Regions from separate parts of the Homo sapiens genome. Here region 2 is linked to region 1. Evidence: fine-mapped expression QTL. Tissue or cell type: sun-exposed skin. Region 1 holds a variant in brackets; the other region holds the start of a gene. All regions are shown on one strand. Distances are between the middles of the regions.

Evidence for each region. PIP is the estimated chance that this variant, and not a neighbour inherited with it, causes the effect.
Region 2: FZD8 starts here. The variant in region 1 is fine-mapped to the expression of FZD8 in sun-exposed skin (GTEx, PIP above 0.99). The same link has a PIP of 0.9 or more in unexposed skin.

The regions. Positions count from the first base shown.
Region 1 is chr10:35,884,296-35,892,442 of GRCh38, reverse strand. No RefSeq gene overlaps it. Among named protein-coding and RNA genes, the nearest start is that of LINC02630, 11 kb to the left of the region's middle. The variant G/A (reference allele first, on the strand shown) is at 4,470.
Region 2 is chr10:35,639,170-35,647,303 of GRCh38, reverse strand. FZD8 (frizzled class receptor 8) reads left to right here and starts at 5,008. Exons shown (of 1, transcript NM_031866.3): 1 at 5,008-8,134. The coding sequence starts at 5,875. The coding sequence ends at 7,959. LOC124902528 (zinc finger protein 469-like) reads left to right here and starts at 4,458. Exons shown (of 2, transcript XM_047426128.1): 1 at 4,458-4,674; 2 at 4,891-5,576. The coding sequence starts at 4,458. The coding sequence ends at 5,576. It overlaps MIR4683 (microRNA 4683), which reads left to right and starts at 6,052; the gene lies at 6,052-6,132. LOC105376494 (a long non-coding RNA gene) reads right to left here and starts at 3,989. Exons shown (of 2, transcript XR_930820.3): 1 at 2,388-3,989; 2 at 1-404. RefSeq lists silencers at 6,460-6,549, 7,089-7,383 and enhancers at 6,660-6,819, 7,639-8,134.

The DNA.
Region 1 (8,147 bases):
TCCTCCAGCAGACGTGGCACAATACGAACAGTAAAGTATAGAACGTTCTGCCTATAATGAAGATACAAAGCCAGACTCGCTGGCTGCTGCTCATTTTTTAAGAATTGGCTCTTAGAACCCAAGTGTACCACATTTTGCTGAAATAAGCAACTGACTTCTATAGTCAAAGTTGAAACCCCAAAAACCTATTTCTTGGACTCATAGCTGCTGTCATTTAGCAAGAAGGAAGGGTCTCCATCCTATCCAAATTCCTAGTGTATTGGATTTCTACATATAAGGCATACGCACCCTTTAAATGCAAATAAATATTCCATTCTTTGCTCTATAACCAAAAAGGTACTCTTGACAATGCACCAAATGGGACCATTTTTTTCATTAATTCCTTCTAGAAGACAGTTTTCTTTAAAGATTTTGCGTAGTAGCTTATTGCATAAAGAAAAAACCATAATGATTTTAAAGAGGTAGCATTTTATGTAGTTTCAATTTTTAAAACTAAAACAAAAATATGGGTAAATATGTTATTAAAATAGTAAAGAATGGAATGTCACGATAGCTTATATTTGCACAACTCCTTTCAGTTGACAAAAAAAAAATCTTATAAATCTTTACAGCAGTTCTTTGGATAAGGCAGGGAAGGTATTATTATCACTCACAGCCCACCAGCAACTCTTATTCTCTGCTGAGAAACTGTAAAGTAATTAGAGACTGCAGATTAAAATACCATAATAAAAATTTCAAATTGAATTGGAGATTGTGTTAAACTAAAATGTGACTGAAACTGCCACTGATATATGTAGCTATCATCCTAACTGCTCTGGTCACTTTTATTGGCTAACTAGAAATTTCTAATCAAAAATTTATCTAATCCTTACTAGTGTTCATTTATAAGCAACCACAGAGCCACGTGAGAAGCCTGGGGTCACCTCTGTTATCCAGCATGTGCAATCCATAATAACCCAACAATTTAATAGAAATATTTTCTATCAAAGAAAGTTTACCAGAATGATTTCTGCCTTATATTGTGCACATATACCAGGCCATGCTGGTGATCCTTAGCAATTCTGGTAAGGTTTTAGAAAACTGCTTTATCAGGAGGCTTACCAAATAAACCACAGATTATTTCACAGAACATTTCACAGAACAGCATCAGAAAGAAACTTTCCAGGGTTTAGCAAAAAGATACAGGCAAGGAACACAGGCTGAAATAAGGAATTGGCAGCTCCAGAAGAAGAGGGAGACAGAGAAGCACATGCCCTCCCAGGGTTCATTCTACCTCTTGAACTGCTGGTAGTAAAGTTAATCTGTAAATGCTTTGAGGTGATTAAGAAGCTGGGCATCACTCTAAATGTAAATAAGTCCCGTTTCATTTCCTGGAAGCTGACTCTGATTGGGGCAGTCACCAGCTACTTAGCCTGCCGATAAATTTAAGATCCACAGTCTAGCTCCTAATTAACCTTGTCTTCTTATGAAGTCAAAGCTTAGCAAACTCATTTGTAAATACAAGCACACCCAGAGACCTCATTCTCCACAAGTTCAGGGAGGAAAAGTTGGTTTGTTATACATAGAAAGCCATGTTAAAATCTGAAAGCCTTGTGTTGATGATGGATTGCTTACCAAATATTTGGTAGAAGGTGATGTCATTTCCTTCAACCAACAAATCTGAAAAGTAATTTGAAAGAACATTCTAGCAATTGAATTTTGGTCCTTTTTCTGATAACAAGATTTCTGTCCCTTCAACTTACAGCTTCTGGAAGGAGACAATGAATTATTTATTTCCCACTCACTTGCTCGCTCTCTCTGCGTAGGCCCTGTTCATTCCTCTATCTTATCGTAATAAGCCAGGTCACCTCTGAACTGAACTGAAATCACGACTGTTCAGTGTTGCCTGCTTTATGGGTCTGGATGGCCTACTTTATATTGTTTGTTCTTCACTGAAGTTGGTGTGCTGGTGTAAGATTGTATAACTGCTTTACCCCGGGAACCCTCATAAAAATGAGAGGGTTGGCTCATAAAACTATCCCACTGTGCAAAACTGTAAATAACTTCCTTAGAGGCAGGACAAATTCAAGGCTGCAGAAAGTGCATACTTTCAGGGCCAGAGAACAGAACCATCCCCTCTCAAGTTGGTGCCTCTGCGAGCGGCTGCGGTCCTGCTTGTCCTGGGAATCGCAATGCCAATTGTTCTCTCCATGTTTTGCAACTCAACACCATTTCCTCACGCCTATTTTCCTTGTTTCCGCTTTGCCACTGTTTGCAGACACAGGAAGAGGTCAGTGGGCTCAGATGAGGACAAGGCCCCTGCCGGAGCACAGTCATGTTTATGGGCCGAGTGATGATCCATCACCCTCACTCTGTTTACGTGAGGGATTCCATAAATAAACAGTCCCTGTACAGCTGCTGTTTTTGCTATCTGTTTTCAGGATTCAGAATGGTGTTCTAGTACAACTAGAGTCTGATGCTGGTGTATTGAGCGGAAGCGAATGTGGGGATTCTTTACCAGCCTGTATTGTGTACCACACTTTCATACCCAGTACCCTGAAACACACGGAGTAGCTTCTTCAGCGTCACTAAGAGCAACCGGCACTTCAAGCCAAAGTGGTTTTCTCCCCAGAGTATTTTCTTAGAATGCTCAAAAGAAGAAGTAGAATCCAGGGTGACTTCACAACTGCGGATACAGGGCAGGAAAAGGGTAGCATTTGGAGTCCGGGTGAGGAAAGAAAGTTCTTCCATCTACAGGTAGCATGAATTTAAGCCGCAAATTAATTGCAAGGTACATTTCACCTTCCCTAAAGCAGATACACCTGAGGGAGACCGTGGGCACAGCAGAAGCATAGAGCAGTGGTTCTCAAAGTGGGATCCCCATTAACAACATCTGGGGACTTATTGGAAATGAGAATTCTCAGGCTTATAAATCACAGACTTTGAGAGCAGGGGCTAGAAAAGCATGTTTTTAAAAGCCCTCCAGGCATTTTGATGCAGCTAAAGTTGGAGAACCAGTCCTAGAAACAGCACAGCATACAGCAAGGTTAGAGTCCATCCTCAAACTGCTGTGTGCCAGCCCGGGCTCTGCTGACCTTGACCAAGTGATGTAATTCTTGAAACCTCAGTTTTCATCTGGAAAACAGGCAGTAACAATTAAGCTGTTGGGACCATTTTGTGAATGTATTTTGCCTGTTACACACTTAATATAGTGTCTACTGATTAAAATACTCCACGAATAATAGTTGTCATTGCTTTTATTCCTTTGGAAACACTAGGACTGGAACAAAGTATACACTCAATAAATGAGATGAACAAAGGAATCCATGAATGAATGTCAGGACTCTAGGTGGTTAGCTTGTGTTGAGAAGAAAGATGCTAATGGCACTATATAACTAGACCTCTGCATTTTAGAGAAGCATTTAGAAACATACTGTTCTCTGAGACCTTGTGAACAGCAAATGCATTTAACAAATAGAAAAGGTAGGAAAAGAGGAAGGAAAGAGAAAAGAGAAGGGAATGGAAAGGGTAAGAATTGGGGTAGTTTTTCTGCATCCCATTTTATATGCAGACTGTGGCTCAGAGCATTTATTTCTCCAAGTATCTACCCTAGAGCTGTGAAATCCATAATGCCGTTAGGGATTTATTTCTCTTTCCCTCTACCCTTCTCCCTTCAGTTGAGGGCAACTTGTTCCTGATGAAGAGCTACTTTTTGTTCCCCCAAATTCTGACGCTTGCTGGGGAGGAGTGCTCAAACGGGGAAATTGGCGAGGGGTTCTGAGAGTGCCAGGTAATGGGATGAAAGAGGTGGGGCCCAGGGGCTCTTGAGGGAGCTCCGAGGACAACTGATTGGGATCACAGGGAGCATCTGCTCATGGGATTATAGGGGTGTCTGCTTATGGGATCACAGAGGTTGTTTGATCATGAAATTACGGGGGGTGTCTGATTATGACTTCAGAAAACAATGTCACCACACCCACATCAGGTTTGAAGTTAGATCAGAAAAGGCAAGGAGAGACTGTATTTTGAGAGCAAAAGAAATTTATAGTGACAGGAGACAACCAAATGCCTGGGCAGATAGGGGTGGCTCCTGGTGAAACCCCACCTCCAAGCCGAAGACAGTTTAAAGCCTGAAAGCCAAGCTACCAGTTAAATCCTCAGACTAGGTTGAGAACTTGTCTTCCCATTTGGTGTGTTTTCCTCTGATTGGTCCCCACCCTTCACCTATTTTACATATACCTACTCTTATTTAATTGGTTTTTCTACACTGTCATGCCCACATTTAAGTGGTGCCTTCACTTTAACTTTTTTGGCATATTCACAAACCAATTAGCACGCAATCCCCATTCTGAGTTCATAAAAAGCCCTGGACCCAGCCACACGCAGAACTTTCTCACCTTTGGGTAGGGGGACCACCCCCATGTCCCCTCTCAGCTGAAAGCTGTTTTATCACTCAATAAAATTCTTCTCCACCCTCCTCACCGTTCAAT[G/A]TCCAGCATATCTTCATTCTTCTTGGGCGTGGTACAGGAGCTTGGGAACTGCTGAACGTAGGTACAAGCTGTAACACAGGCAAGCTGGGGCATGCCAGCATGCAAGCAGGGCCCACGTGGGGCATCACCAGCCAGAAGTCCCTGGCTTGCAAAGTGACCAACAAGAAAAATCATACATCAAAAGCTGAGGCAGCTGCAGAATGTTAAAAGGTGCATGTCAAAACGAGTTTAGCTGAGCATTTCTTCATTTTTCTTCCCATATCAGGCCTATAGGAGGAGTCAAAAAAACAACAAATAAAAGAATCTATATGAATTGTGAGGGAAAGACACTTCTTGAAAGTCAGAAGCATAGCACTCTGAAGGAAGATCCCCGGCTCACCCCAAGGCTTGAGGCAACAGAGCTCCCTGCTTTTAATGACATATTTGCAGCAGGGTCTTTGTGGCTATGACCCACAACCGCCATTCCACCTTCCCCAGCCCTGCCCTGAGTCCAGTTTCTGCAGATAAAGCACCCCAAGAGCCATGACTTCTTTTGATGAGACTTCCTTCATAAAGGATACAACTGTGAGTCAGGATATAAACTCCCTCCAAGTTAGGTTAATTGTAAGCCAACATAGTAGACACAAGATGTTGTTTATCCTCAGTAGAAGGATGTCTTAACTGAATTCCTCCCCTCTGGTCACCACAGATTTTGAGCATCTGAAACTATTTGATCAAACAACTCTTCTACATGAAAGAGATTTCTGCTCTTCTTCCCTGAAAGTTATTTGTCCTCACCTGGCCCCAGTGAGCAATTTCCATCCCTTTGCTCCCACCCCCAGCCCCTATCCAAGATCAACTTTCCTCTAGAAAGGAGGCTACAACCAAGAGCATTTGCATCCTTAGTGCTGAGAATGTTGACGGTGCTCAGCCAGTGGCTGGTTGGGTGGCAGATCCTTAGAGCACAAATCGTTTCTACGGAATGAAAACCCTTTTCTCTTTTCTGAAGTCCTTTTCATTCTTACCTCCAACCCTGCTAATTTTGGTCTTTACTATTCTCTATGCAGAATCATCAAGCGTGGGCTATATAGAAAATCATCCCCTGCTAACCCACCAACGCTATCAGACACAGAATAAGTGCAGGGGGGACCAGAAGGAGGAGTGACAAATTTCTCTTCTAATAGTTATTATCCAATAACAAGGAAGTGAATACTCTAAAGCCAACATAAATAAATGAATAAATACATAAATAAATAACAAGTACCCATGCTCAGCTTAGAAATTCAGCCCTTTATGATAAAAATCCTTTATCAGAGAGCCTCGCATAATATATTTGTGTTTCCCTGTGCTCGCCTCCTCATTTTATTAATATAAATGACCAAAGGCAACATAGAGGAGATATCATTCACTGTACTAAAGTAGGAATCTAGTAAGTGAGAAATTCAGTACTCAATAATTGTTAGCAGTAGAGCTAACTCGTGAGGGGTGGGATCAAGGTCACTGAGGTCTTCTCCCTTCTCACAGTCTTTTAGGGAGTTAGTACTTAACATTTCTTGTGGAAATGCAATTATAATTGAGGAATACATAAGGTGCTCTGTAAATGTAATGTTACCAGGTCAACCATAAGAACCCATATCTCTGAGGAAATAACATCCTCCGTGCCTTCATTATGTCACTGTCATTGGCTGAAACAATAAAAGTAAAACAGTAATTGTGGCTGTGTGGACAGTGATTAAAAACAGGCTCAGCAGTGAAACAAATGTGTGATTGAATGTTGGCTCCACTTATCAGAGCCTCAGTTTTCTCAGCTGGAAACTGGGATAATAATTATTCCCCTCAAAGGGTCACTGTGATGATAAAAGAACACACTGTTGCCCAGCATGGTGGTGCACATCTGCAATGGCAGCTACTCGGGAGGCCAAGGTGGGAGAATCACTTGAGCCCAGGGGTTTGAGGCCAGCCTGGGAAACATAGCAAGAGCCCATCTCTTGAAACAAAAAACATACACACAGACACAACCATGGGAACAACAAACACTGGGGATTCTAAAAAGAGGGAGGAAAAGAGAGGGGCAAGGGTTGAAAAACTACCTATTGGGTACTATGTTCACTGTGTGGGCGATGGGATCAATAGAAGCCCAAACTTCACATCATACAATATTCCCATGTAACAAACCTGCACACATACCCTGTGAATCTAAAATAGAAAATAAAATAACTTTTTTCAAATAATAACAATAAATATTATAAAGAATAAAGAATACACTGTACACCTAGCACAATTCCTGACACCTCGTGAATATTTATTTGTGATTTACTACTTTTGCAGTTTTACAAAGAGCTTGCATTTACACTGTCCTAGTTGAGAGACAAATGAGGAAATTATTTTACAAGTTAAAATAAAAATGAAATCAGATAGATGAGCTGACCTACATTTGATCACACAGCACGTGGTAGAGTCAGCACTTAAGTCCAGGGTTCCTGACTAAAATACATGCACCTTTTACTACATGATTTTTTACCTTCATAATAATATAAAGTGCTTTTATGGTTAACATAAAGTTATCTTCCCTGATTCTAACAGGTATCACATAAAACAGGCGAGGTGGACATTATATTTTTGCAATTTGACAAATGAGAAACCAAGTTAGGGAGGGAAGTTTGCTAAGGATGACACAACTGGTTAGGGAGCAGTGCAGCACCTTCAACCAGGCCTGTAAGCTCTTAATCCTCTTTCCACTAAACCAGCCAACACCTCTGAAAGAAGAAACAAACTCTTCGTTAAACTACGTGGAATCAAATATTTCCATTAGTTACCCGTGTTCTAAAAATGTTCAAACATTAACTGTTTTCAATCTGCAGAAGGTGCTTCCGGCAAATCATTTCAAGGGGAGTTAACCTTCCAGGACTTTTTAAAGGACAATTTATAAACAAAGGCACGGAAAGATAAGCTATCTCATACAAATGTGTCATGCAAGGTTTCGCCTAATCTCTGGCTGTCACTTTGCAGACTGTGGAGTTGGGTTGGAGGCGTGGGGAGGCATGCACAGAAGGAGGCGTGCATCCAGGTGGCCGCTCGCTCAGGAGCCACCTGGGCTGGAGGAGCAGCCTGTCCCCAGGCAGGAGCCCTGGGGACAGGCTACTCATTCAGGTGCCCCAGATAGCCATTATCAGAGGGGTGTGGTGCAGTGGTGCTCTGCATGCAGCCCAGGAGAGGAGACGCTGCGGCACAGCAGGAGCACTCCTAATTCTGTAACCAACAAATGAAAGAGCAGAGAAAAACCAGCAGGAAACCTTTCATTCGGGGTATCTCTAATTTGTGCAATTATATAAATGCCTTATGCTGCTCTCCTTAGATTCGGTGCTGCTGTGGGACACTGAATATTAAAACTGCCTGACAAGGCTCACGTGGAATATTTGTTATGAGTTTATTTGGAAAACTGGGGGTCTGGAGGGTGAAAAGGGCTTTATTAAATTTAAATATACCATAGTTTTGGAATCTTTTATTTCTGTTCCATTGTCTGAATTGGACTGAAGTGGAATGGGACGTTTGTTATTTCTGTACTGCCATCCGGTTTTGCAATGAATTTTATACAGACTGACAATCCTTAGAGTTATTTCCATGCAACAAGCAAGATCAAAGAAGGCAAGTGGATGGTTTGACAATAATGGGGAAGGGAGAAGACTTCACACCCACTGT
Region 2 (8,134 bases), 250 kb after region 1:
GCTGCAGAAAGAACTGACGGTGAAATGTCTGCTTCTAGACTTATTGATATGTTGAGATGTCCTTCTTGGCTAAGCCACTTTTACCCGGGAGGTCTTTACTGGACCTGAAATCTACCAAACTAATGCACAATGCATGCCATAATAAGAGCTTCAATATCTGGCAAATATTCCCATGTGGATGAGAAAAAAAATCAATTATTGATTTTTAAAACAAATTTTAGAATAATTATCAACTTAAATAATGGCAGTGCGGTCGCCGTATTCCAAAGCAGCAGCTGCATGTAAAGTGAGCATGGGCCTGCCAGCCAGTGGCACAGGTGGGCCTGTTATCTCCATCCATGTGCACCTTGGCCTGGTGACAGCAGACACAGCAAAGAGTACTTCCTTCCAACAGGATCTCTTTCCTGGCAGTGGAGAGAACAGAAGCAGCAGCACTTCAATTGAGTTTCATGTTAATAAGGAAGAATATAAAAATAATCTCACCTGTTTAAAGCTAGCAGAGATTGATGAGGCCAGTTCACCTCTACCTCCCCTTCCATTTATGGACTGAGAGACTCAAGACATAACCCTTTGAAAGGCAGATTTTTAAAACACCAAGATGCCCCAATATTACCATTAGAGGTTTTGTTATTGTTGTTGTGGGTTTTGTCTTTTTTTTTTTTTTTTTTTTTTTTTTGAGACAGGGTCTCTTTCTATTACCTAACCTGGAGTACAGGCATGATCACGGCTCACTACAGCCTCAAACTCATGGACTCAAGCGATCCTCCCACCTCAGCGCCTCAAGTAGCTGGGACCACAGGTGCGTGCTACAGGCCCGACTAATTTTTTTTTTTGTTTTAGACAGACTCTTACTGTGTTGCCCAGGTTGGAGTGCAGTGGCAAAATCTCAGCTCACTGCAACCTCTGCCTCCCAGGTTCAAGCAATTCTCTTGCCTGAGTCTCCCAAGTAGCTGGGATTACAGGCACCCACCACCATGTCCAGCTAATTTTTGTATTTTTGGCAGAGACAAGGATTCCCCATGTTAGCCAGGCTGGTCTCGAACTCCTGACCTCTAGTGATCCTCTGACCTCGGCTTCCCAAAGTGCTAGGATTACAGGCGTGAACAACCACCGTGCCTGGCCTTGTTTTTTTGTTGTTTTTTTTGTTGTTGTTGTTGTTTTGTTTTTGGTTTTTTTTTTTTTGGTAGACTCGGGTCTTACTATGTTGCTCAGACTGCTCTCCAACTCCTGGCCTCAAGCGATCCTTCCACCTTGGCCTCCCAAAGCACTAAGACAAACGTAAGCCACTGAGCCCAGCCAGTGATAAGAATTTTATATTATCTAATAATATAGTACTTAACTGTTTTCTTGAGAGAAAATAATATTTGGCATTTATTTATTTAGAGACAGGGTCTTACTCTGTTGCCCAGGCTGGAGTGCAGTGATACAGTCATGGCTCACTGCAGCCCCAGCCTCCAAAACTCAAGTGATCCTCCCACCTCAGCCTCTGGTGTAGCTGGGACTACAGGCACATGCCACCGCACCCAGCTCATGTTTGTATTTTTTGTAGAGACAGGGTTTTGCTATGTTGCCCAGGCTGGTCTCGAACTCCTAGACTCAAGCGATCTGCCTGCCTCAGCGTCCCAAAGTGCTGGGATTACAGGCATGAGTCACCGTATCTGGCCAATATTTGGCAGTTTATAACACCTGAGAAATTGTATTAGTTACCAAAGAGTTCCTCATTTAATCTTTGGAACGTATCATTCTGTTAGTATATGCCAGGCTCTCTCTTCCATCCAGATTCTTATATTGGATTTTTAGATGGTAATCCACTGGAACATGATTTCCCCAAAGTTTCTTAAATTTGTTACAGACAGTATTGATAGTCCCCTGTCTAACTCGGTAGCCAACGTTTTGTAAAACCTTCCCTCCTCTGAGGTAGATTCCTGATTCCAACTGTTTACATTATTTGCTTGCAGGCCATTCAGCAACAAGCCATCTGCTCAGAAATCCCTTTAGAAACTTCCCTACATTATTTATGTCACTACTAAAGCTATTTCCCCTCCCCTAAAAAACAGCTGCTTTACATACAATGAAAATATCATTATTTAGCCATAGAAGTTGATATATGTTCTGGTTACTTCTAGGTAACCCATCATTACCTTTTACGCACTAATTGGCTACAGAAGTCTCTCCCTTCTCTGAAAGACTACCAAGTAGCCGTTTAATTTAACAGTAGATGTAAAATGCGATTCTTATATTCTCTCAATTAAAAGTACATTTGTCATGACTTTTATGTAACTGGTTTTAACCTCACAAATCACTAAGATCTCCCAAATAGCTGATATGATTTTTGAAATTCTGAACTTCAGTCTGCTTATTTTCTCATGCAAACTTAACATACTTACCCAAAATTTCCACATTCCACATCATCAAACTTTTCATCTTGTCTCAAAAGAAAAAAGAAAAAAAATTTAAAGCCAATTAAGAGCCAAAATCAACCATTTTCAGCTTCAATTTCAATTTTCAAATGTCAGTTTGTTTTTACCCAATTCTAGCAAATTTATGTAGTGTAATTCTAAACTTCACTATTTGACATTTCCCCGTGGAAGAAAAGCAACAGAAACTTTTCACCATCTGTGTTGCTCTTGGAAACCAGCCCCTCCCATCTGTGGTGCGGGCAGTGCAGCACCCTTGCTGGTCTTTGGGGCTCTGCCTGCACCGCTGCCCTCAGATCAGCACTGGAACCTCTGGCAATTACCTGCAGCTGATGCGTTCTGGAGACTCGCCCTCTGGAAACAAGGTGCCAACCGCAGAGATAGTGAATTTCTACATTCAACATACAAGTGGGAATTCCGATTTGCAGGAGGTGAGAAAAGAAAAAAAATTTTTTAATCAAGTAAAGGTCTAGTCTGTATTTTTGAATAGCCCGTTTTCTGCTGAATCAGCTAATATTTCTGAAGCCTTTGAATTCCGAATTCCTACGGACTTTAGTTTTTCCAAAACAAAAGTGGGAAGGAAGTGTTGTTTTTCAGTATAAAGAGGTTCAACTCTATAGACTAAAACTAAAAAAGTTAAAAAGATAGGGGGGTATAACTATAGATTGGTGGATATGCCTAGAACACAGAACTTGCCAAAAACGGGGCGCTGGGGCAGGGTGCGGTCTGACAGTCTACTTGTAATATGTTTCATAATGAGGTTGCTAACTGAGCTACAGAAAGCAGGAGGAGGAAGACATAGATGCCATCAGCTCAAGCAATCTACAAATACTGCTGGTTATTTTTGTTTTATGACAAGAGTTGTTTCTGAACGGACAACCACGAGCTACCACCACCACCAGCAGCGCCCCGAAAACCGGAACTGGCCTCAAATGTACTTTTAATTCTTTTGCTCTGTCCCCACGCCCTCTGCAACTTTTGTTCTCCAACTGTACTTGTTCCGGTATGAAACCTGGCAAATAGCAAAAATCTTGAAACAAGAAGAGAGTGAGAGAGCGGAGAGAAAAGGGAGGGAAGGAAGGAGAGGGAGGAGGGGAAGAGGAGGAGGGGGGAGAGAAAGTGGTGGGGGAGAGAGAGAAGGAAAGGAGGTGGGGAGAGAGAGAGAGGGAAGACAGAAGAGAGGCAGGGAGGAAGAGGGAGAGAGGGGGACGGAGATGGGGAGGAGGCGGGAGGGAGGGAGAGAAAGAGAGAGAGAAACATATTCTGCCACCCTCCTGGCTAACTGAAATGCTTGTTCCCGAGATTACAGTAATTACTGCCCCAGCATGAGTTCCATACAAGCGCTAAATGAAACAGCACATCAATTAAAAAATAAACACTCCATTCTAGGAGAAAGACAGCCCCCTGGGACGCCCTAACAAGCGTAAATGAACCTGCCAGGCCGCCGGCCCGGGCCGCCCGCAGCCCCCCTCCCGGCCCGTCTTAAGGTGGCGGCGGAGCCGGCGGGGGCAGCGTTCGCTGGCGGTGGCCCAAGCGGCTGCTAAAAGCAGCCCGGGTCCGGCTCCGGCCTCGTGCAGAGAGCAGATACGTGTCGCGGAGTCCACGCCAGAGCGCAGCGCCGCCTCCCACCAGAGAAAAGGAGGCTCTGGCAAAAGCCTGTGAACTTGGGATGGATGAATAGACGTCCTGAAAGAACGAAGGGAAGACAGGGAATCCAGCCCCAGAGTTTCCAGCCTGTCCTATTTATAAGTTTCGAGGTTTGTTTTGAATTTTAGAAAGAAATTGAATGATTTTTCCTAAGAAAGCACGGCGGCTCGGGGCTTCCTATATTTTATCTCACCTAATTATCAAAGCCCCCTTGGAGATCTGTGCTATGATCACCCAACTCTCTAGGTGGGGAAACTGAGGCTCCCCCAGGTCACGCAGCGGAGGCGGGAGGAGAGTCTCTGGCGGGCATTTGTCCCCCGCGCCCCTCGCGCGCCCAAGGCTGGGCTCCGGGGCATCTCACCCGGGCCGTCCCGGGTCCAGCCCCAGTTTAGAATGACTCCACACCCCCCACATCTCCAAGTCTCAGAAACCATCGTTCTGAGAACCCCAAGGAGGACACCCTTTCCCGGGTCTTCTGCAGCGCCGAGCCCCGGCAGGCCTCCCCGGCGCTCGCCTGCTGCGAGACCTTCCTGCCGCCCCGAGGAGCACGAGACCCCAGCCGCCTGCAGATCACCCACATTTGCGGAGGGTGGCAGCAGGGGCTTGGCTGGTTTGAAACGCGCCGGGGAGGCGCGCGCTGCACCAAACCCCGTCCCTGTCCCCAAGGGCAGACTCGGGGTAAGGGGACCAAGACCTCCGACGCACTCAGCGCCATGGGGACAGCCATGGCCAACACTCTGTCTCTGCGGTCAATCCCAAGGTTACCAAAACTCTCCATCCGCAGAGAGCGCGCACAGCAGTGCGGACACTCGGGGACTGCCTTAAGGAAGGCTGAGCCCTGGGAGCGCGTGGACTCCGCCCTACCGCCCGGCGATTGGCTCGCGGGGCTGGGGGCGGAGACCGAGTCCGCGCTGTATAAATATTCATGAGCCGGCAGCGCGGCGCGAGCGGGGCTGGAGCCGGGAAGTTGGGCTAAGGGCGCTGCTCCCGCCGAGGAGGAGGCGGCGGCTGGGCGCGGGCCGCGCCACTCAGGTGTCCGCTCCGCCTTCCGGTCTGGATTTGCTCCTGGGTGTCCAGCAGGAAGGAGACTGTGTGCACCTCGCCCGACTGCGGCCGGAGCGCGGCGCTGACTTTTCCAGGCGGCGGGGGTCCGTCTGTCCCGGCGGCGGACGGACGAAGGACGGACGCCGGAGAAAGAGGGCGGCGGCCTGGGCCGAGGCGGGTCCCCAACTCCGGCGGCGGCGGCGGCGGCTTGGCCTTGGGGGCGGGCATGAGCCCCCGGGGGCCGAGTGGTGGCCGCCAGGGCTGACCCGGCGCGGCAAGCGGCCCGGCCCAGCCATCTTGACTGCGCACCGCGGCCCCAGAGGAAACTTGCGGCGCCTCCGCCCTCTCTGTCCGGCGGAGTCACCGCCGCCCGGCGCGGCGGGGAGAAGTGGTCGGGCGCGCGGAGAGGAGGCGAGCGAGCGCGGGACGATGAGCCGAGGCCCGGCCGCTCTGCGCCGCGAGGGCTGAGCGCGACCCGGGGCCAGCAGAGCGGACCTACGGACTGTGGCGCGCGCCTGCAGCCGCCTTCAAACCCCCGGAGCGGCGGAAAGGAGTGCGGAAGGGCCCTGCCCAGGCTGCGGGCCGCGCCGCTGCGGACGCGCCCCTAGAAGGGGTTAGATTATCGGCAGACCCCCCTCCCGGGCGAAGCATAAGGGAGACCCCAGATCACCCGCTGTACCCGTCTGCGGCTCTCTCGTGGGCCCCCCCCCCGGCACCCCTCTGCGCGCCGCCTGGAGGGCGAGGGCACCGGGCCGAGGCGCACAGCATGGAGTGGGGTTACCTGTTGGAAGTGACCTCGCTGCTGGCCGCCTTGGCGCTGCTGCAGCGCTCTAGCGGCGCTGCGGCCGCCTCGGCCAAGGAGCTGGCATGCCAAGAGATCACCGTGCCGCTGTGTAAGGGCATCGGCTACAACTACACCTACATGCCCAATCAGTTCAACCACGACACGCAAGACGAGGCGGGCCTGGAGGTGCACCAGTTCTGGCCGCTGGTGGAGATCCAGTGCTCGCCCGATCTCAAGTTCTTCCTGTGCAGCATGTACACGCCCATCTGCCTAGAGGACTACAAGAAGCCGCTGCCGCCCTGCCGCTCGGTGTGCGAGCGCGCCAAGGCCGGCTGCGCGCCGCTCATGCGCCAGTACGGCTTCGCCTGGCCCGACCGCATGCGCTGCGACCGGCTGCCCGAGCAAGGCAACCCTGACACGCTGTGCATGGACTACAACCGCACCGACCTAACCACCGCCGCGCCCAGCCCGCCGCGCCGCCTGCCGCCGCCGCCGCCCGGCGAGCAGCCGCCTTCGGGCAGCGGCCACGGCCGCCCGCCGGGGGCCAGGCCCCCGCACCGCGGCGGCGGCAGGGGCGGTGGCGGCGGGGACGCGGCGGCGCCCCCAGCTCGCGGCGGCGGCGGTGGCGGGAAGGCGCGGCCCCCTGGCGGCGGCGCGGCTCCCTGCGAGCCCGGGTGCCAGTGCCGCGCGCCTATGGTGAGCGTGTCCAGCGAGCGCCACCCGCTCTACAACCGCGTCAAGACAGGCCAGATCGCTAACTGCGCGCTGCCCTGCCACAACCCCTTTTTCAGCCAGGACGAGCGCGCCTTCACCGTCTTCTGGATCGGCCTGTGGTCGGTGCTCTGCTTCGTGTCCACCTTCGCCACCGTCTCCACCTTCCTTATCGACATGGAGCGCTTCAAGTACCCGGAGCGGCCCATTATCTTCCTCTCGGCCTGCTACCTCTTCGTGTCGGTGGGCTACCTAGTGCGCCTGGTGGCGGGCCACGAGAAGGTGGCGTGCAGCGGTGGCGCGCCGGGCGCGGGGGGCGCTGGGGGCGCGGGCGGCGCGGCGGCGGGCGCGGGCGCGGCGGGCGCGGGCGCGGGCGGCCCGGGCGGGCGCGGCGAGTACGAGGAGCTGGGCGCGGTGGAGCAGCACGTGCGCTACGAGACCACCGGCCCCGCGCTGTGCACCGTGGTCTTCTTGCTGGTCTACTTCTTCGGCATGGCCAGCTCCATCTGGTGGGTGATCTTGTCGCTCACATGGTTCCTGGCGGCCGGTATGAAGTGGGGCAACGAAGCCATCGCCGGCTACTCGCAGTACTTCCACCTGGCCGCGTGGCTTGTGCCCAGCGTCAAGTCCATCGCGGTGCTGGCGCTCAGCTCGGTGGACGGCGACCCGGTGGCGGGCATCTGCTACGTGGGCAACCAGAGCCTGGACAACCTGCGCGGCTTCGTGCTGGCGCCGCTGGTCATCTACCTCTTCATCGGCACCATGTTCCTGCTGGCCGGCTTCGTGTCCCTCTTCCGCATCCGCTCGGTCATCAAGCAACAGGACGGCCCCACCAAGACGCACAAGCTGGAGAAGCTGATGATCCGCCTGGGCCTGTTCACCGTGCTCTACACCGTGCCCGCCGCGGTGGTGGTCGCCTGCCTCTTCTACGAGCAGCACAACCGCCCGCGCTGGGAGGCCACGCACAACTGCCCGTGCCTGCGGGACCTGCAGCCCGACCAGGCACGCAGGCCCGACTACGCCGTCTTCATGCTCAAGTACTTCATGTGCCTAGTGGTGGGCATCACCTCGGGCGTGTGGGTCTGGTCCGGCAAGACGCTGGAGTCCTGGCGCTCCCTGTGCACCCGCTGCTGCTGGGCCAGCAAGGGCGCCGCGGTGGGCGGGGGCGCGGGCGCCACGGCCGCGGGGGGTGGCGGCGGGCCGGGGGGCGGCGGCGGCGGGGGACCCGGCGGCGGCGGGGGGCCGGGCGGCGGCGGGGGCTCCCTCTACAGCGACGTCAGCACTGGCCTGACGTGGCGGTCGGGCACGGCGAGCTCCGTGTCTTATCCAAAGCAGATGCCATTGTCCCAGGTCTGAGCGGAGGGGAGGGGGCGCCCAGGAGGGGTGGGGAGGGGGGCGAGGAGAGCCAAGTGCAGCGAAGGGACACTTGATGGGCTGAGGTTCCCACCCCTTCACAGTGTTGATTGCTATTAGCATGATAATGAACTCTTAATGGTATCCATTAGCTGGGACTTAAATGACTCACTTAGAA